Regions from separate parts of the Homo sapiens genome. Here all the other regions are linked to region 3. The links come from fine-mapping of genetic effects on gene expression. A gene starts in region 3. Each other region holds a variant in brackets. All regions are shown on one strand. Distances are between the middles of the regions.

What was found.
Region 1: its variant is fine-mapped to the expression of RASGEF1A in whole blood (TOPMed, PIP 0.97).
Region 2: its variant is fine-mapped to the expression of RASGEF1A in whole blood (TOPMed, PIP 0.92).
Region 4: its variant is fine-mapped to the expression of RASGEF1A in stomach (GTEx, PIP above 0.99).

What each region holds. Positions count from the first base shown.
Region 1 is chr10:43,124,591-43,132,353 of GRCh38, reverse strand. RET (ret proto-oncogene) reads right to left here. Exons shown (of 20, transcript NM_020975.6): 18 at 7,372-7,471; 19 at 5,632-5,779; 20 at 2,003-4,242. The coding sequence ends at 4,085. Among named protein-coding and RNA genes, the nearest start is that of CSGALNACT2-DT, 9.9 kb to the left of the region's middle. RefSeq lists enhancers at 819-1,419, 1,420-2,020. The variant T/C (reference allele first, on the strand shown) is at 4,594.
Region 2 is chr10:43,196,587-43,202,177 of GRCh38, reverse strand. It overlaps RASGEF1A (RasGEF domain family member 1A), which reads left to right. Exons shown (of 13, transcript NM_145313.4): 4 at 233-370; 5 at 1,290-1,511; 6 at 1,922-1,996; 7 at 2,410-2,502; 8 at 2,984-3,086; 9 at 3,166-3,245; 10 at 3,983-4,174; 11 at 5,079-5,202. Among named protein-coding and RNA genes, the nearest start is that of CSGALNACT2, 61 kb to the right of the region's middle. RefSeq lists an enhancer at 230-731. The variant T/A (reference allele first, on the strand shown) is at 2,827.
Region 3 is chr10:43,262,882-43,270,644 of GRCh38, reverse strand. It overlaps RASGEF1A (RasGEF domain family member 1A), which reads left to right and starts at 3,580. Exons shown (of 13, transcript NM_145313.4): 1 at 3,580-3,800. RefSeq lists an enhancer at 4,075-4,950.
Region 4 is chr10:43,221,588-43,229,350 of GRCh38, reverse strand. All of the region lies in intron 1 of RASGEF1A (RasGEF domain family member 1A), which reads left to right. Among named protein-coding and RNA genes, the nearest start is that of RASGEF1A, 42 kb to the left of the region's middle. RefSeq lists an enhancer at 501-1,311. The variant A/C (reference allele first, on the strand shown) is at 3,318.

The DNA.
Region 1 (7,763 bases), 140 kb after region 3:
AATTTGTAGTTGCAAAGATAAACTGTGATTTCTCCAGGGTGTTCAGAGTGTTTGCCTCCTTAACTCCTGGGAGCAGCCTGCCCTTGCAGCCCTCAGACGGCCACTACCTGGCCTCAGCAGCAGGACACAGTAGTGGCCCCACGCTGAAAAGTTCTCTACATGCAGGTTCTTATGACCTCAGCTAAGATGATCCTTCCTGAGTCCCAGCTCCCTGAAGAGGTGGGAGACTCTACACAGTTTCGGTCAAGGCTGCTGCCATGGAGAAGGGACAGGGCCACAGCAGGAGCCCTGGCAGAGAGGGTGCTTTCCCTGCAGGCGCACAAGCCTAGGACTTGCACCTGGAGCATCTTCATGTGGAAGACGTGTGGGGCCACGCACACTGCTGCATGCACCCTGAAGACCCACCTTTCTGCTTTTTCAGGGCCACAGAGGTTAGGATTCCCTAGGACTTCCTAGAACCACCCCCCAGTTGTGAGGACCACTAAACACAGGCGAACCTCAGAGATACTGTTCCAGACCACTCCGGTAAAGCAAAGAAGATTGAAGATCCCAAATAAGTGAGCCACACAAGTCTCTTGGTTTCCCAGTGCATATAAAAGTTACACTTTACACTGTACTGGAGTCTGTTAAGTGTGTGACAGAACTATGTCTAAAAAACAATGTACATACCTTGGTTTAAAGATTCTTTACTGCTTAACAGTACTGATAGAGAGACATGAAGTGAGTGTGGGCTGTTGGAAGAATGGCCCTGATAGACTTTCTCGACGACTCAGCGTTGCCACAAAACTTCAATTTGTGAAAAACGCAATAAAGCAAAGAGCAATAAAACAAGGTGTGCCAGACACTATGCGTGAACGCACCCGAGGCAGAGAGAGGCACCGCTAACTGCTCCACCTGCCTGCGGGAGAGGCTTTCTTTATATGTTAGAAATTATGCTTTCCCTTCAAAATTTCTTTTGTGTATGAAGTATTTGTTCAAGCCCTGTTCTCAGGCACATTCAACTAGATTTCTGCCCACATAAGCTGGCCTCGTGGTGGGAAGAAATCCTTCGTGAAGGTTGGCAGAAAATGTGTTTTTAGGGGAAAATAAAACAGCAAACATACACACACAAATAGTCCTAATGTAGAGTCTACATTAGGGGTGGCTTTTAGCATTAACTTTTCTTGGCGTAGATTTCTACTTTCAGAGGTAAAGGCTACAGCAAACAGCTGGCTCTGGAGATTACGTTCACTTCCAGCCCGTGGTCCAGGCTGAAGGAGGAAGCCGTGAGCAGACACAGACACCCACGGCTGGGAAGCGGGGCCTCATGGGCCTGGGGCGGGCACTGGGCGAGGCGTGCCAAGGCCTGCATGTACACCACCTGGCGAGGCGTGCAAAGGCCCACGTATACACACGTGTATGTGTGTGACACAGGCCGTTGGCATCTGACACAATGCAATCGCAGATGAGACTGATGTTGACAACAACTCCCGTTTGCCCACTGACCCATCAGCTCCACGCCCGGCATGAGAAGCTCAGAGAATTCCTCGGGGAAGACATAAACAGAAGTAGTGAGTATGTCAGGCTTCATGGTGGTTCAGGACAGCATTTTCCCTCACACTTCTAATGGCCTTCCTCAGGACTTGGCATTTTGTATTCTGTCTCCCACAGCTCTAAGGCCAACTTCAAAAGATCAGCAACAAGCAAATTGCTAGAGAACTGTGAAGACCTAAACTTGACACTGGCTGCTGCTTTGTTCTAGGGATGGACACTTTTAAGGAAGGGATTCCTTGAACAGTGGAGTTAGCTGAGTTTTTCAGTTTCTATCAATGTGCCTATTCACACGCAAATGTACCAGATAAGCCAGCGATATCTCCAGAGCCCCTAGTCCTCGACCACTATTGATGCCTCAGTGGTTATCATGATAGAATTCTTTGTGATGTTTTAAATATTGTATGGAAACTACAAAATCAGAAATCTGTTGTTTCCAACTAGAATGTTAAAAAGAAAAAAAGTTTACACATTTTATGATACATGATTTTATTTACACAACTGATTTTCTTAGTCACCTTGATTACAAAAAAAGGAACATGATCTGGTTTAATGACCTTTCATAAATAGATTTTACAAATTTTAATAACTGACAGATTACTACTTAATACTCAGTAATACTTAATACTTAGTAACTTCTGCATTTACGTGTATGAAAATTCCAGTAGAGCTAATAAGGATGGGGACTTTTATAACTCAGGAATAGACAATTAGGTTATTGGTCAAGGATAAATTGGTCAAGGATAAATTCCCCATCACTGGGTCAGCTGTTTAGACCTGGAGTTCTTACCCTCCTGAGAACAAACCTGTTGCAGCAATTCACACTTACTGTGTAGGCATTTTTAATAATTTGAGAAAGTTTATTCTTATTTCTGCATTTAGTAAGACTATCATTAAGCATATCTGAAAACCAAAAGTTTACCATGTCTATAGATATTTGTAAAAGAACTTATCACAGTGTATCTGAAAAACAGCCCAAATTAGAGCCAGGTTACGTGTCCAATAAGCATTTTTCAAACTCTCCCTCTGGGTGTGTGCGCACACACCACAAGGCTCTATTACACACGCATCCAAGCCTTGGCCTCACAAAATGCCACAATTTTGCTGTTTTTGTGAAATGCCTATATAAAATACAGTATTTGAATGAGACTATTTTAAGTCCTATCAGTGCTTTAAGTCTGAAGAGCAGGCAGTGTTTTGGTAATCCGACTCTTTTCTGCGAAGTTACAGTGCTGACAACACAGCCAGAAGAGCTGCTGAGACTTCCCAAAAGCTGCCCCCACAAGACTGGAGGAGTGTTGTGCATCTGTGACCACAAACAAGCAATGAAGAATGACAAGAAGCTTATGAGTCATGGTCAGAATCTAAGAAACAGAAACATCTTGTAGCAGCATTAAATTACAAACACAGGAAGAGCTGATCCATGGGCCTTTCACACAGGCTCTATAAGAGCCAAACACCATCTTTTTCACATCAGAATTGTAATCAGAGGTGTAGCAGTCCTTGGTCATTGTCATTGCTACTTCTAACACAGCTAGCTAGCCTGTCCCTTTATGAGTAAGTTGATAAGATTCAAATTAAAGTGAGTACAAGCCCTACCTGCTCCTAACAGGTAGGATGAGCCACTGCTTTCGCCTCTACTTGGCTGTGGGGTGTGCTGCAGGCTGGTGGCAGGTGGGATTCACAGCAGCAAAGCCTCTGCTGTCAGCAATTCTGGGACTCCAACAGCCCCCTTTCTTCATACTGTTCTCATCAGGGGTAGTGGCTGCTCAGTACCGAACACGTGAGGATGATGTGGTGGGCCCGGGGGACAAATGTGTCTTGTGAGCCCTCTTCCCTGATACCACCATCCACATAGTAAAGATGGCATGGAATCTCTCCATTGTGCTAAATCTAGGAATCATCTTAATCATGATGAAAACCAAATGTCTTCCTAAGGAAAGGTTGCATGATTTAAAAAAAATCATTCTCAAGATCTCGAATGCTGAGCCCAGGCCCATCCTCGGGGCCCCTCTTCCCCTCCAGCCCTGGAGGGGCATTGACACTACCCCCAGGCCCCCCCCGCAGTCTCTCATTCTGAATAAGGACAGGTCATCAGGGCCAGCATTTTTCCTACTGCCTTTTTTGTGTGTGTGCTTCATGTTTAAATTTTTTTGCCTTGTTTGGCGGCAACTAGAAAAATCCAACAGTTCAGGTCCAATTTCATACACCAGGTAGTAAGTGTTGGACCCACACATGTGAACACAGAATGTTGGTGGTCACTGATGGACACAGACCAACACTGGGTGCTGCTGGGCACTGAAGAGAAAGGAATGCTTAACCACTAAGACTCAGAGCTCTTACCCGGTGTGGCATGTCTGCTAGGAGGGAAAATCACCGGCTATCAGAAGTAAAACCACCTTGGAAGTTAAAACAAACTACCAAAAACGAGTCTGCCACCTGGGAACTGAACACGGCTCGGCCAATGTGACGTTCACAAAGAAAGGGCCGGTAGACTTTCCATTCTCAGCATGTTTCTTCCCCTTGTGAGTCCATTACCTTTCACAAAGAAATGTTAACTATCAAACGTGTCCATTAATTTTGCCGCTGAGGGTGAAAGCATCCAGTTAGCATATACACTATCATTTGGATATCTTGGAAACCCAGTGTTAGTGCCATCAGCTCTCGTGAGTGGTACAGGACTCTCTCCAGGCCAGTTCGGGTCTGACATGCCTAAAAATGAAAACAGATCATTTGTTCTGCACTGAAGAACCAAAACTTCAAGTGCAGACAGTAAGGCCTTGGCAAAACTCCCTTTGATGTTCAAACCAAACTCGTGGTTTCTGTGCCAATTATATTAATGGTTTTGTGTTCCAGGTTTCCAAAAACACTGTTATAGTTAGGGGAAATATCATGTGCTCTCTTGGTAAATGTAACTTAACAGACACTACCAATTTTGACTTTTATGAACTTGAGACTCTCTAATCTGATGTATATTTGTCGAACTGCTTAACTCTTTTTCTAAGGCAGTGTAGGGCAACAGCACACTGCTGCACTCAATGGCTTACTGCAGCGGAAACGTTC[T/C]ATAAAACATTCTCTAACGTAAAGGAGGCACTCGTCTGTTGTCTGAGCCTACAACGGAGAAGAGGACCTTCCAAATCGAGGGTGCACACGGGCCAGCCTCATAGCATCGTCAGCACAAATGGAGTGTGGCACTAGACACAAAGCCAGTGAGGAGTCAGTGAGTCAGGAGGCATGCAAAAGGAACCGTCTCAGCTTGAAAAAAATGCTTGAAACTCCAAGATTTCAAACAATCAATGATGAAGTTAGGAAACAGAAAAAATTTCTAGTATTTAATCAAAGACAAAAGAAGGAGTTTTGGCAAGAACCATATTTACTGTCCATTGTAAGACCACAGCACCACAGACCATGTTCTTTCAAAAAGCAACTGCTCCAGCTTTAGCACTGACTTCATAAGTGACAACCGTCCTGAAGGTGGGTAAGGGAAAGGATGTGAAAACAGCAGTGGGGGTGCGTCCTCCCAGGGCCAGCCAGCTCCTGCAACCTCGCTACCCCTGATGGAGGACATGTGGCTGGGACTGGGGCTGAGGCTTGGCCAGTGGCTGCTCGCCAGTGCCGGGTGGCCTCTGAGAGGCACCTGCCTGCCCAGGAGGGGTCTGGGGGAACCTGGCTGTGCTCCCAGTGCAGGCTGAGTGGTGCTGGTGGCTCCTTTCTCAACTGAATACCTCCCCAGATTTGTATATTTATCCACTTAGTTAAAGTAGAAGTACTATGACTTGATTCCCACCCCAGAAGCGCCTTATTCAACCTGTTCTTGGTCTCCCCTGAGAGTTCCGCCCTGATCTGTTTTTTCCTCTACCATCCTAAGTTGCTGGGCAATGTGGTAATTACACTTATTTTCACATCCTTTTAGAAAAACATAGTTGCAATAATGCCTAAATGTAAACTGGATGCAAAGTCAGACATTTACAAATAAAAAGGTTCAGAGCAGACTTTGGTTTTGTTCAGACCAGAAACATTTTTAAAAAGCATCACAGAGAGGAAGGATAGTGCAAAGGGGACAGCGGTGCTAGAATCTAGTAAATGCATGGGAAATTCTACCATAGAGTTTGTTTTCAATCCATGTGGAAGGGAGGGCTCGAGGGAGGGGGGCATTATTACAGTCCACCAGCGGTGTCTCCTCCTCTGAGAGGCCGTCGTCATAAATCAGGGAGTCAGATGGAGTGGACGCCGCAAGGTCCAAGTAGTCCTGGAAGACAGAGATGGCCGGTCACTCCAAGCCATGTGCCACAACTAGATACAACTCAGTATACAACAAGCCATCCTCAGGGCAGAGGCTCTGGCTGTGTCTCCACCTCGCACCAATCTCCTGACCTCTCCAAGAGACCAGGGCCAGGCTGCATAGAGCTCCCAGGACTCCTGGCTGGCCTGGTCCTGCTCTGAGGTCCCCATCACTCCCCTGGGTGTTGTCTATTCTGTCTCTTCCCCTGGAAAGTCACCTCCCTGGGGAAAGAAATGTGCTCCCTCAGCGTCTTATCTCCAGGGCCTGGAGGGCAGCCTTGGGGGACGCCTCATCTAGCTGCCCCTGGCCCAACCCGGAGATGGGCAGCACGGAACCAGCCCGCTGACAAACCCTTGGGCTCTGGGGGAGCCCACTGCAGCCACATGCCAGGACGCAGCCCCAGCCTGCAGGATGTTTTCCAGCTTTCCCCAAGGACCCCTGCCATCTAGAACGTCACGTCAGGGCTGAGTTCTGAAATCTGACAGCGCTGTCAGGGTGCACAGGACCCTGCTACAGGCACGGGCTCCCCAGCACGAGGGGCCACTGGCGTCTGCTCCTTTCAATGCCCAGCTTGAATGTGCACAGAGGGGCCCAGCGTTTTCCCGGCTGTTTCTCAGCACTGTTCTAGGAAGGCCAGCACCAGTGATCGCTTCTGTTTTGAACAACGCTGCATTCTCAGGACTTGAAGTTTTCATCCAAGCGAGACAGTGATGTGAAGTTTTCCTATGGGGTCCTAGGTCCTGCATCCCGCTATCCAAGTCGGAAGAAGTGACAACTCAGTAAATGTGCCAATGTTAAGACAAGGCCTGTGTGTAAACCCCGTGAGGGCAGGGCTGTGCTGGTCTTGTTTATCTGCATTCCCAGCCTCTGAGACATAGTATGGGTCCTAGCAGCTGCCTGATGAATATTGGTTGAAAATGTGTAGACCTCACAAACTGTACTTCCAGGCACACAGGCTGACTCTGGCCACCCCCCGATATGCTTTGTTTGGCCTGCGTTCGGCTCTGGGAAATTTAAATGAATTGTTAACAATAAAAACTGGGAGACAACATAAACCTCATAAAATTCAGAAGACCCAGCCCATTCCTGGCTCCTTTTTCTGCAGGCCACAGGTACTCCAGCAAGGAACCCTTTGGAGGGGGCTGGCTGTTTGCCACAGTCTCCACTGCTCCTTACTCACTGCCCTCCTCCAGCCGGACCCCCCTCTGGGCATCTGAATTTTGGGCACTTGCTTTAACTCAACTTTCTCATTTTCCATTATGGAAAACTATTTCTTTTTGGCTTTGGAATATTTTCCTCCCATGCCTGTCTGTAGAGAGCTTTTCCTAAATGTCAAGAATCTTGGTTTCTTCATGACTTGAAAAGAAGCCCAAGCGGCCTGGCCTGAGAAGGGTTCAATCTGCTGTCTGCATGCAGGGGAGAGCATGACTCTCTCTCTCTGCACAATCCCACTGTGGCCCCACACTGGGAACTCTGAGGGCTAAAACTACTGCCCTGGGGTGAGGCTGGAGTCTCCCCAAGCCACTTTCAGCTTGTGGGAATTGGACCCAGGCACTCACTCTCCTCTTAACCATCATCTTCTCCAGGTCTTTGCTGATGTCCGCAAACACCGGCCTTTTGTCCGGCTCCTGCTTCCAGCATTGCAGCATCAGGCGGTACCTGGTGGGAAGAGCAGACAGGCCAATATGATCCAAGCAGGGCCAGGTCTCAGAAGGACAGCCCACCACAGCCATCGCACCCTGCCCTGTACCCTGGGCCCAGTGTGCTCTGTCTCCAACTCCAAAGCTATTTCTGCATCGCTGACATCTCTGAGCCTCGTGGGACTGGGGCATGGCCTGTTGCAGGATCCCAGCCCGTGGGCCACTGTGCTCAGGTCTCTCAGAGCTGTGGTCCAGAATCCTACAAGCTTCCCTTCCCTCCAAGGGAGATTCATTTTTACTTCCCTTGCAAA
Region 2 (5,591 bases), 67 kb after region 3:
ATAAGTTTATTTAAGTGAAAAAGAAAGTCAACTTAAGGGGAAGGAAGAAGGAACCAAACAGGAGTCATGTGGCGGTTCAGGTTTGGCCAAACCGCAGGTGGCACGCAGTTGGGGGCTGTGCCCAGCACAGGGCCTGGGGTGTGGCTTGGGGATGTGGGAAGCTTGCACCATTTGCCATCTAGTACCCTACTCTGCCCTGTGGGGCCTTACTCTGTATCCCCTGCTGCCCCAGGCCAAGCTGAAGTCTTTCTCAGCCAAGATCGTGCAGCTCCTGAAGGAGTGGACCGAGGCCTTCCCCTATGACTTCCAGGATGAGAAGGCCATGGCCGAGCTGAAAGCCATCACACACCGTGTCACCCAGTGTGATGAGGTGAGTGCTCCCTGGGCTCTGGCCAGGGTCTTTGGGTGTGTGCCAGGGTCTGCCCTCGGGAGGGTGGGGGCTTCGGGGACAACTCTGTATGTGGTCCCCTTCCATGTTACTCCCCCAGGAGGGTTGCTGGCTGGCCCCATTCAACCTCCCTTCCCCCAGATGACAGCTCAGCTGGCCAGCAGTGGGCCAGGGTCACCCATGATACTGCAAGCAGGGACCTTGCAGCCCGGTTGCGGGCCTGGCAATCATTGTCTCAACCCTCTCCTGGCCCTTGCTGTCCTTGTCCCTGGAGTGGGAGCCTATTGAGAGTTTGTAAGGCTCTGCCTGTCTTGGATTAGTGAGAGGAGGTGGGGGTAAGGCTTTAAACCGGTCTCCCATTTTTCAAATGTCTTCACCTTTGCCTTTGGTGGAGAGAGAACTGGAGATGCCTGGGCCAACTGGGCCTCCACAGTGGAAGCATTCCCTGTGCTTAGCAGCTCCTGTTCACCCCGAGTACTCCAGGAGGAGCCAGGGACCCCAGGCTGCTCCCAACTAGGGGGCAGAGACTCCTGGCTTTGGCAGAAGCCTTTCCCATGCCTTAAACTGTTCTATGGGCTGCTCCTGCTTCAGGAAGCAGCTCAGTGGGCCGCCTCTGAAAAAGCCATGCTTTTCAGACCCAGAAGCTCAGTCTTGAGCCTGTCTCTGCCCTTAGCCTCGTCCTGCAGCAGGACAGCCCACTGAGACCCCTCCTCAGCAGTCCTCAGAGGAGCCCATGCTGTGCCCCACTTTGTCCTTGAAGGCCTGAAGGCTGCGGTTTAGATAGGGGCTGTGGGCTCACGTTGGTTAGGCACATCCCTGGAGGTGAGATGGATCCTACCCACAGTGGTGGTGGCCTTGCTGCCAGCCCATGCTGGCACCCTTATTGCCCTTGACCCCACAGGAGAATGGCACAGTGAAGAAGGCCATTGCCCAGATGACACAGAGCCTGTTGCTGTCCTTGGCTGCCCGGAGCCAGCTCCAGGAACTGCGAGAGAAGCTCCGGCCACCGGCTGTAGACAAGGGGCCCATCCTCAAGACCAAGCCACCAGCCGCCCAGAAGGACATCCTGGGCGTGTGCTGCGACCCCCTGGTGCTGGCCCAGCAGCTGACTCACATTGAGCTGGTCAGTGCTGCCTTATGCCCTGACTGGGGGTGGGGGCTGTGGGACCACAGTGCCTCTTTCAGCACAGCACTTCAGGCCCCTGCTAGTCACACTGAGCCATCAGGGAAGTGCGCTTGCCAGCCCTGACTGCCACACTTCATGCCAGATGTGTGTCCGTCTGAGTGGCGGGCACCTCTGTGCCTGGCACTCACGTCCTCAGGAACACAGCAGTGCTGTGTCAGTGGGAGGAGCTGGAGCAGTGTCGTCCTGCAGTGGGGACTGCAGTGGCCCTAGGATGGAGGACTGGCCTGGGAGGAGGTGAAGGTCCTGTGCCCTGGGCAGCTCCTCCTCTCCCTGTCCGCATGCCTATGCAGTGCTGTCCCTTCTCCAGGGGAAGCTTGTCACCTTCCCTTTGCTATCTTCCACCCCAGGACAGGGTCAGCAGCATTTACCCTGAGGACTTGATGCAGATCGTCAGCCACATGGACTCCTTGGACAACCACAGGGTAAGTGGGCCAAGGCCTGTGGCACCCCTGCCAGCCCTGTCTGCCCAGCACTTGCGCTCCATGCAGGGTGGGTGTGGGCCTCACTCAGCACGCCCCGAGCGTCTCCGGAGTGCTGGGCCATGAGCCCCGATGGATGTGGCACTGGACCTCCTAGCACCTGCTTCAAGAGGCAGCACCTGCTCCAAGATGGCTGTGCTGGTCATGGATGATGAATGCTGGGAGAGGTCACAGATTTGGGCCAGGGAGCCAGCCTGGCCTGCCAGCCCTGCACTGGGCAGCAAGGAGCACGCAGGCATGATTGAGGCTGCTGCGGTGCAGGCTGAGCCATAGCTGGGGACCAGGGCCAGCTGTGGGGACTAAGTTGTCCAGCCATGGTCCTCCAGGCCCCCTATGACCTGCTGTGTCCTTTCCAGTGCCGAGGGGACCTGACCAAGACCTACAGCCTGGAGGCCTATGACAACTGGTTCAACTGCCTGAGCATGCTGGTGGCCACTGAGGTGTGCCGGGTAAGTGCCCATGGCAGACATGGTGGGGTGGCTGCCATGCCCACACCCAGTGAGACCCTGATCTTGCCCCAGGAATTAGATGATGGAACTTTAAGAGTGAATGCACAAAGTCCCTGTTGCATTGTCAGGGCCTTGGTGGTCCCCCAACCCCGACATACAGCGATTCCTTCAATGACAACAGACACCCCATCCGTGGAGTGCTCCCCTTGTGCCCAGCACCATTTTTCTTGCCTGTGTGAGGCTTTGCCAGCCCTCACAGCCCTCTGGGGCAGATGGTGCCTTCCCTTTGATGACTGAGGAGCCTGAGCATAGGCCGTGCACATG[T/A]CTGGACCTCCCAGACGCAGCCATGGACCTGGATCAGCCCGCTGTGGCCAGAAGCTAAGTCCCGAGGTCCTCCCTGCCCCTCTGTTCCTCTGCCCGGCGGCCCCAGCTCCTGCTGTCCCCCGGCAGCGCCATGCTGAGGTCACCTGCCACCTTCCAGGTGGTGAAGAAGAAACACCGGACCCGCATGTTGGAGTTCTTCATTGATGTGGCCCGGGAGTGCTTCAACATCGGGAACTTCAACTCCATGATGGCCATCATCTGTGAGTGACTGGGCACCCAGGGTGGGGCTGCTGCATGGCCCACCCCCCCGGCCCTGACCCTACCTGCTGTCCTCTGCAGCTGGCATGAACCTCAGTCCTGTGGCAAGGCTGAAGAAAACTTGGTCCAAGGTCAAGACAGCCAAGTTTGATGTCTTGGAGGTAGGCACCTGAGCCCCGTCACAGCTGCGAGCTGCACCCATTTCGTCCCGCAATGGCCCGAAGGGGGCCCTGACAGTGGGGGTGGGGGGCTGCCCTCCTCTCCCTGGGGCTAGCACCTACAGTGCTGGCTGAGCTGGCCTGGCATGTTCGTCCTCCAGCAGTGGGGACTTAAGTTGTCCTCGGTTACTTCAGGCAGACCCGGCATCACCTAAGGCGAGTTCCAGAGTGGAATGCGGTTAAGCAAGAGTTTGACAAGAGTGGGGTTGTGTTGGAAGACACTGCCTTTTCCTTGGTCAGTGTCTCCAGGTCCTGGCTGGTCTAGATGGCCCAGAGGCTGGCAGACAGGGTCACCTGCAGCCTTCCTCAGATGTGTTTGACCACAGAGTCCATTTTTGCAAAGCATGTGTCTTGTGGAGCTGGTCAGGTCTGGGAGGTGTTGATCTAAGTAGAGGAGCAAAGGGAAGTCTTGAAGGAAGGAGGGCGAGGGTCAGGCCTGGCAGGCAGGGCAGTGACACTTCTGTGGCTTTCCAGAGGATGCCAGGACCTGAACTCAGAAGCCCTGGCCCCAGGGCTCAGCCAGGCACCCTTGGGCGTCCCCTCCCCCGTGCTAACTCCCAGGCTGCCCAGGGGCCAGGTGCCTTCTCTGTCTGCTGCCTCCTGCTCTGCAGAGGGGCATCTGGAGCAGGTCGGAGGGGCATGGGGCTGTGATGCTCACCAGGTCCTCCCTGTGCCCACAGCATCACATGGACCCGTCCAGCAACTTCTGCAACTACCGTACAGCCCTGCAGGGGGCCACGCAGAGGTCCCAGATGGCCAACAGCAGCCGTGAAAAGATCGTCATCCCTGTGTTCAACCTCTTCGTTAAGGACATCTACTTCCTGCACAAAATCCATACCAACCACCTGCCCAACGGGCACATTAACTTTAAGGTGAGCTCATCCCAGCACAGGGCAGGCCAGGCGGAAACTGTCTGAGCTACTGGAGCCGCCAGGCATTAGCCCTGGGTCGGGATCTGTGGGTTTCCTGAGCCCTGCCTGAGGTTCACAAGGGCCTTCAAGACTGAAAGCCTCATAGTGGGTCACGGGGTGCTGTTTGACTGCAAGGTATGAGGTGCGCCTGCCGGTACTTCTGGGTGGATGGCCTAGTTGCAGAGCTTGGAGTCACAGGGAATTGTATTTATCCAGGACCGTGGTTCCAGCCTGGCCCTACCAGGGAGAGAGCCCTGTCCACCCCTGTGGGATTGGAGGTCAGGAGGGGTTTAGATAGGAAGGGACTTGAGCAGGGAGGAGGCGGCAGAGAATTCTAGATGGAAGTGAAGAGCCTGCCTCGTGGGCCTGAGGGCACCTGGTGAGGATGGGAGGGTGGGACATAGGTGGCAGGGCAGGTGTAGGTGGCTGTGGGCTGCCGGATGCCTACCTCACACAGGTGAGGTGTGGGCAGGAGCTGGGATCCTTCCGAAGGTCCCAGAGAAGGGACATCATGACACGTTCTGGTTGGCGCCGCTGGGCTGGGTTTGGATGGGGTGCCTGCCTCAGGCTGGAGTTATCAGTGGGGCCTTCTTTGGGTCCCTGCACAGACAGGCAGAGACCCTGCTGCCGGCCTGATGGCCCAGGTGGAGGGCCAGACAGAGTGGCCTTGGGGGACACCTGCTGGCTCTGAGGCTGCATGGCGTGCCACCATGGCCACGGGGTCAGCGTGCAGGGCCACTGTCCCATCTTGCTGGGACCAGTGAAGTGAGCAGGAGGCTGAGGCCAAAACCTACGTCCCCTGCCCTGACCGAGGGTTTGGTGCTTAAGGTGACAGATGAACATCAGTTGGTTTTGCTCCCTTCAGAAATTCTGGGAGATCTCCAGACAGATCCATGAGTTCATGACATGGACACAGGTAGAGTGTCCTTTCGAGAAGGACAAGAAGATTCAGAGTTACCTGCTCACGGCGCCCATCTACAGCGAGGAAGGTGAGGGCTGCCTCCCAACGCAGCATGCCTCCCACCCCACCTGACTCCTTGTCCAGGCCCGGTGCTCTTTGGGGTTGCCCTGGGAGATGGCCTGCTGGCTGCTCCATGCCACACAGGGCTGGCTCTGCTCGCAGGGGCGAGTGTGCATGAGGGTGGGTCATGGGATGGATGGAAGAGAAGGACAAGAGACTCAGTTTCCAGCAGCCACTGGAGAGGGTCACATGGGCTTAGGTCAGGTGCTGCAACACGAGGAACCTTCCTAGAGTCCCCAACAGGCAGCCTGAGAGCCCCGCACAGCAGAGAACTGTGTTCAGCCCAGCCAGAGGTCACTGTCCCCTTGTGCTGGGCTGTACTCCTGAAGGGACAGCTGGGTTCAGGCAGACACTGCA
Region 3 (7,763 bases):
ATCACGAGGTCAGGAGTTCAAGACCAGCCTGGTCAAGATAGTGAAACCCCATCTCTACTAGATATACAAAAAATTAGCCAGGTGTCGTGGCAGGAGCCTGCAATCCCAGCTACTCGGGAGGCTGAGGCAGGAGAATCACTTAAACCCGGGAGGTGGAGGTTGCAGTGAGCTAAGATTGCACCACTGTCCTCCAGCCTGGGAGACAGTGCAAGACTCTGTCTCAAAAAAAAAAAAAAAAAAAGTCCAATGGATCATTTGAAGTCTGACTTATTTCACTTAACGCATCTGAGAGTTATTCAAGTTGTTGTATTGAATAATGGCTTGCTCCTTTTTACTGCTGAGTAGTTGTCCATTGTATGGATACACCACACACAGTTAGTTTATCCAGTCAGCCACTTTTGGGTTGTTTCCAGTTTGGGACCATACTGGAGATTTTCAGACACCTCTCTCAGGAACTGATAGAATATGAGATCCAATTAATTAACAATATAGAAGATTTGGCTTTGATTAACCAACCTGACTTAACTGAAATATACAGAATATTCACTCTTTTTCAAGGGCATATGGGGCATTTATCAAAACAGAACATATTTTGGGCCATAAAGAATGTATCAACAGATTTCAGAAAATCTCTGCCTGATGTGTGATTAAATTGGAACTCAGCAGCAGGAGGGTAGCTAGAAAATCCCCTAATATTTGGAACTAAGCAATGTCCTTCCAAATAAGTCATGGGCCAAAAGAGAAGTCAAAATGGAAATTTAAAAGTCTCTTGAGCAAAATGATAGTGAGAAAAAAACACCAATTGTGAGAGAGAGAGTAAAGCAGTGCTTAACAAGCAGATATATAGCTTTAAGTCCATAGAGTAGGAACGAAAGCTGAAAACCAATGAACCTACCCTCCAACTTCAGAAACTAAAAAGGAAGAAGGAAGGAATGAGAGAAAGACAGTTAATACTCCCCCAAAGGAGAGCTACAAACACAATGAAACTAAGAGCAGAGATTCATGAAATAGAAAGTACAACAGAGAAAGCTGAACAAAGTCAAAAGTTGTTTCTTTAAAAAAAATTATAAAACTGACAAAACCCTAACAAGACTGATCAAAAAAAGAGAGTGAAAAACACAGAGGTCCCCAATATCAGAATCCAAGTGGGACATAGCTACAGATTCTACAAACATCTGCGGGATAATATAAAAGATGTTATAAACAACAATATGAGGATGTCAGAAAATCTGAAAATTTAGAGAAAATGGGCAAAATCCATAAAAAACACAATTTGCAAAAGTTACATAGGAAGAAGCAAATAATCTACATGGTCCTATATATTAAAGAAAATGAACCTGTCATTAAAAACCTTTCTACAGTGAAAATCCAGGTGCAGAGAGCTATTAATATTCTCACTGAATGGGTGTATTCTTATTGAAAATTCATGGAGCACAACTTTATGATTTTTGTCTATGCATGTTATACTTACAAAAAATTATCCTTGGGAGGCTGAGGCGGGAGGATTGCTTGAGCCCAGGAGTTCGAGGCTACAATGAGCTATGATTGTGCCACTGCACTCTAGCCTGGGGGACAGAATGAGACCCTGTCTCAAAAAAAAAAAAAAGCTATAAAAGTTTACTTAAAATGAGTAAACAAATAAATAATATGGGGAGTGGTAGGTGGGCATACAGATGAAACAGAATTGGCCATGTATTGATAATTGTTGAAGTTGGGCCATTGAGTTTATTGTATATACCTTTTTAGCCGTTACTATTATAAGCGTTTAAAATCTTACATAATAAAATATTGTTTGTAAAAAATAGTAAGATCATATTACTTTGTGCAAAACCCTCCACCTCCCTCTGAGTCAAAGCCACAGAGGGCTGATGGCTGGCCAGGCTCTTCGCGATATGGTCCACCTGGCAGCTCCTGCAGGCTCCTCTCTACCACACTCACTCATCTCCACTTGGCCTCCTTCTAAGGCATCCTCCACCTCAGGGCCTTTGCATGTACTGTTCTCTTTGCTGAAAATGTTCATTCCTCGGATTCAGCATAGCTTGCCTCAGTTAGGTCTTAGCTCAGATATGATCCTTTCAGCCAAGATTTCCCTGATCACCCAAAATAAAATCCCCAACCCAGCAGGGAAGGGTGGTGGTGAGAAACTACAGTTCTAGCTACTCAGGAGGCTGAGGCAGGAGGCTCACTAGAGTCAGGAAGTTCCAGGCTGTAGAGCATAGTGATTGCACCTGTGAATAGCCACTGCACTCCAGCCTGGGCCACACAGTGACACCTCCCCTTAAAAAATAAAAAAGAATCCCCCACCCTACAAGCTCCCCTCCCCCTCCCTTCGCTGGCTCCCTCTCCCTGCTGGGCCTCTCTGTGGGATCTGCAGCATCTGACACATGAACTATTTATGTGTATTTTTATTCACTGCCTACTTCCCACAAGAATGCAAACTCCAACCAGACAGAGACATTCACAGCCGAATCCCAGTGCCCCATCTTACACCTGGCATACAGGTGTTCAAGACACAAGGACTAAGTGAGTAAGCAAGGTCCTCAGCCTCTTCAAGGGGTGCTGTGGGGCTCCTCCCCATTTTTTCACACAGACCCCTCCACCTGGGGACATCGTCGCCCCAGACCTGTTTCTCACTGGCCCTCGTCTGACTGCCTGCAAGAGTCACTCTGGGCCACCCTGGGGTCAGGCCACAGGGTGTCCGTTCAAGAGAAGGTGACCCTTCAGAGCGACAGGAAGTTCCAGTGGACGCCAGAAGACCTGTGTCCTGCTTTAGTGGTTCTGAAATCTTTCAAGGTGGCTTTGGAGCCTTGCTCTGCCACTTATAGGCTCTGAGACCCTGCAGGGTAACCGCACTCCCTGTGCATCAGTTTACTAACCTGTCCAATGGGAACAAATCCACCACCGACCTTACAGGGCGATTAAGATGGTTAAGGGGAGTGACCCAAGGGGCCAGGACTTGCCCACAGAAGGGCTTTCACCGTCTGATTCCACTGACAAAAATTTTGCCAGCTCTGCGGGAGTCCCCAGAGGGCCTTTTAAATGCGGTGGCCGCATCGCCTCCTAGCTTGTCTGCTGCCTGATCCTTTTTTTTTTTTTTTTTTTTTTTTTTTTGAGACGGAGTCTCACTCTGTTACCCAGGCTGGAGTGCAGTGGCGCGATCTCGGCTCACTGCAAGCTCCACCTCCCGAGTTTACACCATTCTCCTCCCTCAGCCTCCCGAGTAGCTGGGACTACAGGCGCCCGCCACCACGCCCGGCTAATTTTTTTTTTTGTATTTTTAGTAGAGATGGGGTTTCACCGTGTTAGCCGGGATGGTCTCGATCTCCTGACCTCGTGATCCGCCCGTCTCGGCCTCCCAAAGTGCTGGGATTACAGGCGTGATGCCTTATCCTTTTTAAATGAAAGCCTGGCCGCCCTCTCCCGGCGCCCGCCCTGTCCCAGTGCCCTCTGCTCGAGCCCCGTCCCGCGCCCTACCTCCCCCTGCACCTTTGCCCCGCACCCTCCTCCCTCCGCGTCCCGCGCCCGCCCGCTCCCCCGCTCCCCGCGCTCTCGCGCCCGCTCCGTGCCCGCTCGGCGCTCGCTCCGCGCTCGCTCGTTCGCTCGCTCGCTCGCGCTCCCCGGCGCCGGCTGCGGAGGGAGCTGCTCTGCCCGCAGCTGGCGCAGCGCGGGGGCGGCCGCGGGTGGGCGGGTGCCGCGGGCCCGGGCGCCGAGCATGAGCCGCCGCCGGCGCCGGCCGCGCGCTGCTCGGGGCCCGACTGCGGCGCGAGGGCGGCGCGGGAGCGACGCTGGCCCGGACCGAGGTAGGCAGCGGCCGCGGACCCTCAGTGCCTCGGGGCCCCCGCCCGCGCCTGGGGCCGTGCCCTCCGGTCGCCGGCGCGGGCAGGGCGCGGCGTGCGCGGGCCCGGGGTCCCTCCCGGCGCGGCCGTCGTGGGGCCGGGGCGCGGGCTCCGGGCGCGGGGCGGGGGACGCGCGCGGGGAGGGCGGCCGGGATCCCGGCGCGCGGAGTTGCTGAGAACTCCGCCCCGGGCTGGACGGCGCCAGGACCCCCTGCACCCTCCGCCCCTTCAGGGCACCTGGCGGGCCGGGCCGGGCCGGGCCGGGCGTGGCAGGAGCGCACGCGGCGGGCGGGCGTGGGCACTGCGGGCAGGTTCGCTGCCCGGGGCCTGGCGTGGGGGTGGGGGCTGGGGAATCGGAGGAGCTCAGGGCTGCGCAGTTGGAAGTTTCCATTTGCTCTTCTGCATTCTGGGCCCCGCCGTGGTATCTCACGCCCTTGCTGTTTGGCGAGGAATTGGGGCTTGAGCTCTGCATTTGGGGGAGAGGTCCAGGGCCATGCCAGGTGTCTCCCTCTCCCTGCTGGGCAAGGGTCATTTGAAGGACCACGCTCTCTTTGCCCCAGGCCTTGCCGGCCCCAGGAACGGGGCAGGTGCAGCTGGTTCTGGTCCGAGGGTCGGTGAGTGAGAGGTGGGGGCGGGAGTCCCCTGCTGTGTGTGGAGGGACGCGCTGGCAGGTTCCTGTGCCCTGCATTTCTGGCTGCCTCTGGGTGCTGGACCTGGTGGATATTTACAGAGAGGCCGCTGCCTGCCTCTTGGGAGCCACCTGGGGGCAGAGACCTGGTGGTGGCCGGGGCTCCCTCCCTCCCTGCTCAGAGCAGTGAGCTTCTCCCTGGTTCACCCTCCCCACCACTGCCACTCTTCTCCCACTGTCCTGCGCAGGAAGGGCCCCGATGGCCGTCGGCCGCAGGATCCTGAAACACAGGAGTCAGGCTGGGTGCAGGGGAGCCTCCCAGAGGCCTTGGTTCCCTCTGTCCCCCCAGGGTTCTCCCGCCCCCTCCGGATGCAGTCTTGCCAGCCCAGCCTGTCCACCTCGGTGCCCTGGACTCTAAGCGGCTCTAGGGGGCCTCCAGCCGAAAGGCTACAGGTCTTGATTCGTGAACCACGGGCAGGCTGCAGGCTTCTGAGACTCAGTTTCCCCATCTGTAGACTGACACGGTTTTGATGACCTCTGAGGACATTTCCACCCTGATGTCCAGTGACACTTTGCTTTGGAACCTCAGGACCCCAGCCCAGGAAGGGGAGATCCGGAGCAGGGGGACATGGAGGACCTTGGCTGGATGGCCAGGGACACGTGGGTGGGTTCTCTGCCCCTCCAGCCAGTGTGTGTCCTTAGGGCTGTGGGTGGTAGTGACCCAGCGAGGCGGGTGCAGCAGGCCCACACTCCCTGCTCCTGAGAAGGGCATGAGCTGTGTGGATCCCCCAGGCTCTCTAGTGAAGTAGAGAAGCTGTGTCCTCCTGCACATGCCCCTGGGTTTGTGAACCAAGCAGGTATCCCAGGTGTGCCTTGGCCTGAAGGCCAGCCAGTGAGTTTGTTTTTCTCTGGGAGGCATCTTCGAGCTGCCAGCCGGATGGCTCCCTTCCACCTGGCAAATCGTGGAAATGGAACAGTTCACACAGAGCAGAGGGGTTTTTTGGTGTAACTTAGCAACTGCAGGCAGGGGAGGAGGAGGAGGAGGGAGAAATGGCATTTGTGCTGGACAGTGGCTGCGGTGGGGAGAGCCACGCACACAGTGGCCCCCAGCGGTGGGAGGGGCCAGCCAGGGAGGAGAGCGAGTGGGCACTGGGACACAGTGTGGCCAGGAGCCCCTGAGCACGCCGGTCCCCACCTGTAGAATGATGCCAGGGGCAGGATGGGACAGCTTTGGTTGGCCTTTGGTTTTTGGCAATAGAACCGTGGGTTTCACAGAAGCCCTATTTGTCAAATAGGTCAAGTGAAGGTGCTGTGCCAAGGCAGGGATGGGGGCAGGGGGTTTGGCCCCCCCACTGTCCTCAGGAGAGGGGCTGGTGGAGGGATGCTCTTCTCTGCATGGCCCACCCCAGGGGAGGGGCGCTGGGCTGCTGGGGGTAGGTGCCAGGGGCATAGCAGATAGCAGATGGGGAGGAGACTCAAGGCATTCTCCCCCACCCCTCCCTGCTGCCCCTTGACGGACCCTCCCTCCCCTTCCCCCTTTTTCTCCTGAGGCCATCTGCTTGGGTCCGGCACTCTGGCTGCTTTTCTGTTGGAGCTTCCAATCTGCCTCCTGTAACTCCCACCCACTCCAGCCTGCCTCCCGGCTCCTCTGCCCTCCCCTGCCCACTCCCTGCTGGGGAGGATGAGTGTTTACCTAGCAAGGGTGTGATGTGCGGAGGGAGGGGACTGAAGTGGCACTGGTGGGCTGACAGCCATAGAGGAGGGCCTCTGATACCCACTGGTGGATTGCTGGGGGTGTCAGAGGCCCTCCCCTATGGCTGTCAGCCTGACCTGCGGGGGTCCAGAGAGGGCTCACTGCCCACTTTTTGGGTGTATCCCTGTCGCCACTTTTTGGGCACAGAGCCTGGGGCTGTGGGTATGTGAGAGTGGGCTCTGGGCCGGCCCAGAGTGGCGAGCTGCCAGGAACCCATGCAGAATGTCCCTGCGCGCTGGGACACCAGGAATTCCCCAGCTAGCAGCCCGGGAGCAGGGTTTGGGAAGGTCAGCTGGTATGGCCAGCAGTGGCTTGGCGGGCACTGTGTGAAGGGAAGCCCGAAAGCCCCTCGGGGTCCTGGCCTGCTCAGAGTGGGAGAGGGGCTCTGGCCTCAGGGCTCACCACCTGGGACAGGCTGGTAGAGGCTGCTCCAGGCACCATGACAGAGGGCTGTGAGGGGTGACCGGCCAGGAGTGGACAGGTGTGAGGACTCAAGCGGGGCCTGTGCTGTGATGGACGGGGTGGGGGTGTGACTGCTGCTGTGGCCACCCCTGCCCGGTGGACCATGGAGAGGGAAGCCAGGCAGGGAGAGTAGTCCGGTTGTCCCGGCTCTGCTGCAGCACCTCCCAGGAAGCACATGGGTGCCTTTGGGCACAACTCAGGACGACACCCAGTGATCCTGTTCTGGGAAGCTTCTCCCCACCTGTGGTTGCCCGCCCTGCCCTGGGCACTGCCCGGGCTGGGGTAGGGGCTGAGCTGCCGGCCTGTGCTGCCCAGGGCAGCCAGCAGGGGCTCCGAGACCTGCTTGTCTCTTGTGAGCTGGCTGTGGGGTTCTTTGTGAATTCAGGGAGCAGAGGCCAGCACCAGCTTGAAGAAGAGAGGCCTGGGCTGGGACTCTAGACAGAACAGCCCAGGGTGGGCACTTCATACGTGGGATGCAAAGATGTGGCTGTCCGGTTGACAGGTGCTTTTCCTTTTTTAAAAACAACGAAACTTGCTCAGCCGTCCGCACCCTGGTCGCCTGTGCGGGCTGACTTTGAAGACATGTTCTCTGCTCACTCTGAATCCTCACTTCCCACTCACTCCCACCCACGCCAATCTGCACACACCTCCTTCAGTCCAGGGATGTCTTCTTGAGAGGCCGTGGATGTCCACTGCCTTGTTCCCAGACACCCATTTCCTGGGCTTGGCCGGCCCCTGGTTCTCCTCCTCCCATCCTGGGACACTCAAAGTCCCTGTTCCTCAAGACCTGGGCTCAAACCCTCTACCCAGCCACAGCATCTGTTCCCTCCTCCGTGCTGATCCGGTTCCAGCTCTCATCAGCCCCCACCTGTCCTCTGGGTTCTGTCAGTGTGTGAGCCTGCTGGACGCCTCCCGGGTGACGATGCACATCATCACGCCCCTGAACCTTGCCTGCCCCAGGTTCCCCATCTGAGCAGGTAGGCAGCTGGCTCTCCCTCACCCCCTCTGCCAGCTTCCCTTTGCCTGGAGTTGTCAGCCAGTCTAGCACACCCCACTCTAGACCTCTCTTCTGCCCCTTCTGCCT
Region 4 (7,763 bases), 41 kb after region 3:
CCGGACGACTTGAGGGGCGCAGAACCACCTGTTGCTCTGAGGAGGATGTGCCGGGCGAGGGGTGGTCCGCGGTGTGTGGTCTGTGTGAGGTGCAGGCGGGGGAGGGCTGCGGAAGCGCGGGCGCGCTTATTCACGGCACATGGGAGGGAGCGCAGCCGTGCCTGTGCCTTGTGAGCCCCACGCGCGCCTGTGCGTTTAGGGAGAGTGGAGCCCACCGTGGGGCTTCGAGGAGTGTGCGCTCCAGGGCGAGGGCGCTGTAGGGTGCAGGCGGAGAACTGGTCCTGGAGAGGACCTGAGCATGGAGCACTGGCATTTCCCACGCTGTTTATGGAGACCCATCCCCAGAGGCGTAAGGCGGTGTGATTCGGGTGCGGCAGCCCCCTGGGTTCTGAGTGCCCACAGCGTGGAGCTGAGCCCCGGCCAGCCCTGGCCACGTGAAAGATGCAGGACTCATCTGTCCCTTCCTTCTTTCACTTACTCAGCATGCATTTATCGGGCCCCTGCTGTGTGCAGGCACTGCGGTTCAGCAGGGAACCAAACACCACAGCACGGAGAGTGTTGTCCTCACGGTGCCCACACAGCAGAGGAACAAGCACAATGTGTAGGTAAAATGGGTGGAGTGCTACCTGGTGCTGAGGGCTAGAGAAGAAGCAATGTAGGAGAGCTAGCAGGGCCTGTGAGGAGTTCATCGGTGAGGGTAGTTCAGGTCATTCTGCAGCGATAGAGCAGCCCCCAAGTCCCTCAGCTCACAACATGGTGCAGTTTCCACTCACTGGTGTCAGCCCTGGTCCAGGCCACCCTCATTCAGGGACCCAGGCTGACGGGGTCACATAGTAGGGGAGTGGGGAGGGCCCTGCACTGGCATTTAAATGCCCCAGCCCAGTACTCCAGTCACTGCTGTGAGACAGGTGGACCCCACGGCCCCACCCCGTTTCATTCGGACCTCCAATGACAGTCCTGCTCCCCCAGCAACCAGGGGTCTGACACACTTGGTGCCCAGCGTGCTGACCACCAGTGAAGGAGGGGGCTGTCTGTGCCTTAGGTATGGTGGCCAGAGGAGACGTGTGCACAGGACCTGCTGAAGGAGGGGAGGGAGGGAGCTATGCGGGGGGCATACCAGGAAAAGGCCAGGGCAGAGCTTTGAAGTGGAAGCTGCCTGCATGTTGGGGCCAGATTGGAGACTGGGGCATCAGGAGCAGAGCCCAAGAGGAGGTGGGACAGTGAGGCCAGCGAGGTGGCGTGGCTGGGGGAGCCAGTGGGGGTGACGGGGCTGCAGTGGGAGGTGGTGGAGCAGGATGTGCTCCCCGTGGGGCTGCCATGGCATTGCTGGCTGCTGCTGGGAGGGGTGAAGCTAGCAGAGTGCCACCCCAGTGGTCCGGGGACAGATGAGAATCCCAGCCTTGGGAGATGGCAGAGAAGGAGGAGGAGGGAAGGACTGATTCTGGGGGTATTCTGAAGGCAACACCTGGAGGCCGTGCTGGTGGGTAGGCTGTTTTCATTGAGATGGGGAAGGTCAGGCTGGCGCAGGAAGGAGGGTGTTGCCCTTAGAGGTGGGCAAGATGGCAGGCACAGCAGGTGGGAGCAGGGACAGTTCAACACTTCCCACCCCAGAGGTGTTGCCTGGCAGTGGTGTGGGCAGTCTAGAGTCCAGGGAGAGGTCTAGGCTGCATGTGCTCATGCAGAGCCTGGCTTGCTCCACCCTGCAGGCTCCTTGCTGCCCTGCCTCCTGGCCACCCTACCCACACCTGCACCTGCTGGCTCAGGACAGTACAGCCCTGGGCCCCAGCCTTCCCAGGCCCAAAGCCCATCTTGCTGGGCCTGCTAGCTTGAGCCACCTTCTTTCAGCTTCCCCAGGAGAGGTGGGATGAGGACTCTAGCCCTCAGCGGGGCACAGGCCAGGGGAAGGAGAGCAGAGCCATGGCCTCTCATGTTAGCCCACCACCTCTGTGCATTGGGGGTCCAGGCCTGGCCAGGATGCAGGGGGCACTGGGGACAGCACAACCCAGGGTCACATACTCACAGACACATGGGCTGCAGCAGTGCCATCTGTCGGGGGGGCAGGCAGTCAGGAAGGGCTGCCTGGGGGAGAGAGTCTCACACTGGCATTGGTGGGATGCATGAGGATTGACTTAGTGCAGGGGAAGCTGCCTGCATCTCCCACACCTTTGGGCTCTTGGACCTCGCCCTCCAGGGAACTGCTGGTGAGTGACCAGAGGAAGGAGACCAAACTGTCATGTCAACCTCCCTTTTCCCCCTTAACCCACTGGAAAACCCCTGGTTATCCTTGGAAGCTGATCTCAGAATCACCTCCTTCATGAAGCCCTCCCTGACTACTCCCTACAGAGTTAGTTCCCCACCTCCGTGCCTCCACGACACCCGGCACAGACCCCCAATCCTGAAGAGATCATGCCATGCCATGGAGTTGTGTCTGTCTTCCCACAGACACTAAGGTCCATGGGCTGTTCCGTTCTGAGTGTGTGGCATAGGCCACAAAGGCCTCAAGGGATGCTGACTTGACTGAACAAGTTCTGGAAGGAAGGAGGAAGGAAGAAAGGAAGGAACAAAGATGAGGGCGGGAAGTGGCCTGTACAGGCTCTCTACTTCTTGTTTTACATCTGGGGAAATTGAGGTCCAGAGGGGCTGTGTCTTGCCTGAGGTCAGCCAGGAGGTCAGGGGTCAGAGCTGGTTCCTGGGTCATGAGGGCTCCACTGTGTGGGTTCTGGGCTGCCTGGGTCCCTGTGGGTTCCAGGACAATGGGAGTTCAGAGGCAGATGGGACACGAGGCGTGGGGGCTCCTGAGGGAACCCGGGGACAGTCAGGTGGGAGCCCATGGATGGCGTGGATCTCGGAGGAGGATGGCAGCCAAGATCCCCTCAGCTTCTCTGTTTCTTTTTTTCTTTTCTTTTCTTTTTTTGAGACAGAGTTTTGCTCCTGTTGCCCAGACTGGAGTGCAATGGCATGATCTCACTGCAACCTCCACCTCTGGGGTTCAAGCAATTCTCCTGCCTCAGCCTCCTGAGTAGCTGGGATTACAGGCATGTGCCACCATGCCTGGCTAATTTTGTATTTTTAGTAGAGACGGGGTTTCTCTATGTTGGTCAGGCTGGTTTCGAACTCCTGACCTCAGATGATCTGCCCGCTTTGGCTTCCCAAAGTGCTGGGATTACAGGCATTAGCCACTGAACCTGGCCCTCTGTTTCTTCTTCTGGCCCCTGCTGCTGGCTGGGCCCTGGCCCTGCGGCCCCTGGCACCACTGGCCAAGTGGAGTTTTGTTGGCAAAGCTGGTGTCTTGTGGTCTCAGCCTCGGGGAATAACCC[A/C]GCCCCCACCCCTGTCACCGCCCACACCCGCCTTCCGGGCTGGGACCCAGCCCCTGGCATTTCCCAAATGTCACTGTGACTGCCGCCAGCCACCCCTGCCCAGCCTTGGGCCGGTAAGTATGCGTCAGAGCGCCGCCCTCCTCTCTCTCCCCCTCCCCGTGGGTGAGGAGGCTCAGCCTTCAACTCTGGCCCCAACCTGAGTATGACTTCTCTGGGGACCTCCCTGGGGCCACATACAACAGATGTCCTTAAAACAGGGACTGGCATGTTCCTAGAGTGCCCAGCCTGAGGGGGCAGTGGTGTGGTGTTTTGGGTGGGTGACCAGGAAAAGTGGCTTCAGGGTAGCTGAGCTGGTTGGCAGAGCAGGCCCACTGTGGACATCGTGTTCCTGGGGGATGGTAGTGGAGCTTAGAGAGCTGAGAGATCCGTGGACACACACACACACACACACACACACCCATACACAGACACCCACACACAGAGACACACATAGGTGCACACAGACACAGAGACACACAGACACACAGAGACATGCAGAGACACAGACACAGAGACACGCAGGCACACAGACACAGAGACACACAAACACAGACACATACAGAGACACAGACACAGAGACACATGCAGGCACACACACAGACACAGACACATGCAGAGACACAGACGTAGAGAGACACACAGACACATGCAGAGACACAGACACAGAGACACAGACACACAGACACACACAAAGACACAGACACACAGAAACACACAGACACAGAGACCCCCCCCCCACAGACCCCCACACACAGACATGCACACACACACAGACACATGCAGGCACATGCACACACACAGACACAGAGACACACACAGACACAGAGACACAAAGACACACACACAGACACATACAGAGACACAGACACACATAGACACATGCAGGCACACACACGCAGAAACAGAGACACACTAACACAGAGAAACACAGACACACAGACATATGCAGAGACACACAGACACATACAGAGACACACAGACACACCTCCCCTACTGCCACTGGTGTGAGCATCTCTGTAACAGCTCCACACAGACTTATGGGCAGACACATATGCCCAGGGGAGGTAGATAAGTAAGCTATTGATTTTTTAAAAGTTTATGTTAGGTAATTGATTATTGATACCTTACTAGTTTGAACAGATTTTTAGTTTGGCTTCCTGGAAAATCCAAGAAATTAATTATATTACTTACACATAAGGAACAGCCAACTTCTTTATTTCTAATGTATCTTTAGTTTTCTTATCTTATTATGTTTTCTAAAAGGTGCAAAGTAACATTAAATAATAGCAGTTGTCTTTGGCTTGATCTTCATTTTAATGAGGAGGCTTTTCATGTTTTACTAAGTCTGAAACTGGCCCATATTTCCAATAGGTATTCGTCATCAAGGACAGTGTGCTGGAATCCTACATTAATTGCCAAGAGTGCACACCAGGAATGGATATTCAGTTTCATCAAAGGCTTTCCTATATCTAGCAAAATCATCAAATGCCTTTCCTCCTTGGACCTATTAATGTGTTGACTTATTAACTCTTCTGAGCTAAATCATCCTCTTGTTCCTGGAATAAAGCCCACTGGGTCAGGCTCTATTGTGCTTAAAAATGCTGCTGAGTTCATTTTACTGATGTGTTGCTATGTTGCTGAGGGTATTTTTCACTATTTTCAGAGGTAAGAATTTATGCATACTTTTCTACTAGGAGACATATTTGTCACATTTATAAATCATGCTATTTTAGCTTTATAAAATGAATAGGAAGGCTTTTCAATATGAATTGTGTAGTTGAAATAGTTTATATATCATATAAAATTATCTTATCCTCAAAGGCTTGAAATAATTCATTTTAGAAACTATTTCAGCCAGGGCTTTCTTTTATTTTTTCCAGAGGCTTAGTTGGCTCTCAACTTAATTTGTACTATGGTTATTGGTCTTTTTGGGTTCTAAACAGTTTTACTCTATTTTTGGTTACTTATATTTTCTAGATAATATAAGTAACCATTAAAAGTTCTTGCAGATCATTTACCACAGATTTAGGTAGTTGTTTGTTTTAAACTTTCTTCTACATATCTGGAGTTAGATTCCCTTTTTTCATGCCCAATGTATTTTTCATGTCCTTCCTTTCTTCCTTCTTCTCTCCCTCCCTTTCTTTTTTAAAATAAATTTTTATAATTTTTTTAAAGAAATAGAGACAGGTTCTCACTAGAGCCCCCCAAAGTGCTGGGATTACAGGCATGATCCAGGGTGCCTGGCCCTCCCTCCCTTTCTTCTTTCCTTTTGTTGATTAGAATTGCAAGAGGGTTATCCTTGAAATCTGTGTTTTCAAAGAATCAGCTCTTGAAGTTTATAAGGAGTTCTACTCTATTCTTTGATTAAGTCATCTAATTTGCTTTTTAGTAGTTTCTTCTTCCAGTTTGTTTCACTGTTTTGTTGAGAAGCTCTTTTTTAAGCTTTTTGAATCAAGTGCTTAGTGTTTACTTCAATACATTATTGAAGTCTATGAACTTTTCTGTGAGTACAGCTTTGGCCATATCAAATTCGATACAGAGTTTTCCTATAAAGGTTATTTTTCTGACATCTGTAATTGGAATTTGAATCTTTAACACAGGTGTGATTTAGGGATTTTTTTTATGAAGTGGGTATTTTGTTTATCAGTTATATATTAATATCCAACTATAGTACATTGTGCTTATGTCATTCTCTCACCTGCACACTTCTATTTGGGGACTTTACTGGGTTTCATTGGTGGTATAACATACGACCATGTGGCAGAGACTCTGGACAGTAGAATGTGCCTTTCTGTTTCTAGACACAGTTTTTCACATATCTTGGTCCCCTGTCCAGAGAGCATGCACTGCAATATTTTCATCCCTTGGGCATCTACCACTTGCTGGGCAATTTCTGGTTGTGAATCTAGCATGAAGAGGTGCTCACTGTGTTTCCTGGGCATAGCTTTGTGTTCTTGGGAGTTTACCTCTAATAGGGTTATAAAAAAAAAACCAATAAAGTGTTTTTCTTACTCTCCACTCTCAGCCATTTAGCACAACATTCTAATACCAGATTCTCTAACATTAAGACAGCAGCTGGGTGCCCTGTAATTCAATTTGGACAATATTGGAGGCGAAGTCAGATCTCACAGGTTGAGAGCTTGGTCCCACAAGGCTGTCCCCCTCCCTCGACTTCAGATGCCATTTGCAAGTCTCAGGTTGTGGCCTGTGCTTCTGACCCACCCAGCAAATCACCACTCCTGGGACTCCTTTCTCAGATTCAATTAATTTGCTAGAGCAGCTCACATAATTCAGGGAAGCACTTGCTTCCATTTACCCACTTACTATGCAGGTTTTTACAGTGGTCACAGATGAACAGTAAGAGGAAGGGATGCTCAGGGCAAGGCATGTGAGAAGGGGCGTGGAGCTTCCCTGTCCTCCCAGGCACTGCACTCCAGGGCCCTCCACCTGCTTGCCTACGCAGAAGCTCTGAAGCCGCTCCTTTTGGGATTTTGTGGAGGCTTCATTATGTGGGTGTGACTGACTGAATCATTGGCCATTGGTGATGGACCCAACCTTCAGCCTCTCTCTTGTCCCTAGAGCTGGGGGTGGGAGTGAAAGTCCCCACCCTTTCATCACATGGTTGGTTCCCCTGACAACCAGCCCCCAGCCAGGCTGTCCAGAAGTCCATCAGCACACAGAAGACACTTACCACTTTGGAGATTCTGAGAGTGTTAGGAGGGTGTGCTGGGAAAAAAGACAGCGTCATGCACCACATAGTGGTCCCCTGAGATTCATAATATGATATTGTCACTGTGCTTTTTCTATGTTTAGCTGTAGAAATCCTTACCGTTGTGTTACAGTTGCCTCCAGTATATTCAGTGCAGTCACACACTGTGCAGGTTGGGATCCCGGGAGCAATAGGCTGTACCACGGAGCCTGGGTGTGTAGTGGGCTGTGCCATCCTGGTCTGTGTAAGTCACTCTGGGGTTTGCACAACGACGAAATCGCCTAAGATGCATTTCTCAGGAGGTATCCCCGTCGCGAATGGACGCATGACTGTATGTGCCCGGGCCACACGGACAGGAAGGGCCAACTTGCAGGCAGGAGGCCTGGGCGGCTTCCAGCTGTGCCCTGTCCTCAGCCCCACACCTGTATCTCATCTGGGAAGTGGAGAGCAGGGCCTCAGAGGCCCCCAGATGGTGTCACAGGGCCCAGCAGGTGGGAGGCCCTCTGCCTACGCCACTCATTGGTGGTGAGGCTTGTGGGCAGTTTTGCAGGGGCTAGAATGCAGCACGGGCCCCTTGGACCCTGGCCTGATTTCCCCCACCCCACCTCGCTGCCCTGCGCTTGCAGCCTAACCTGCAAATGCAGCAGGGGCAGCTCCTCCTGGGTCAGGCCCTGTCCATCCCACAGGCCTGGCTGGCT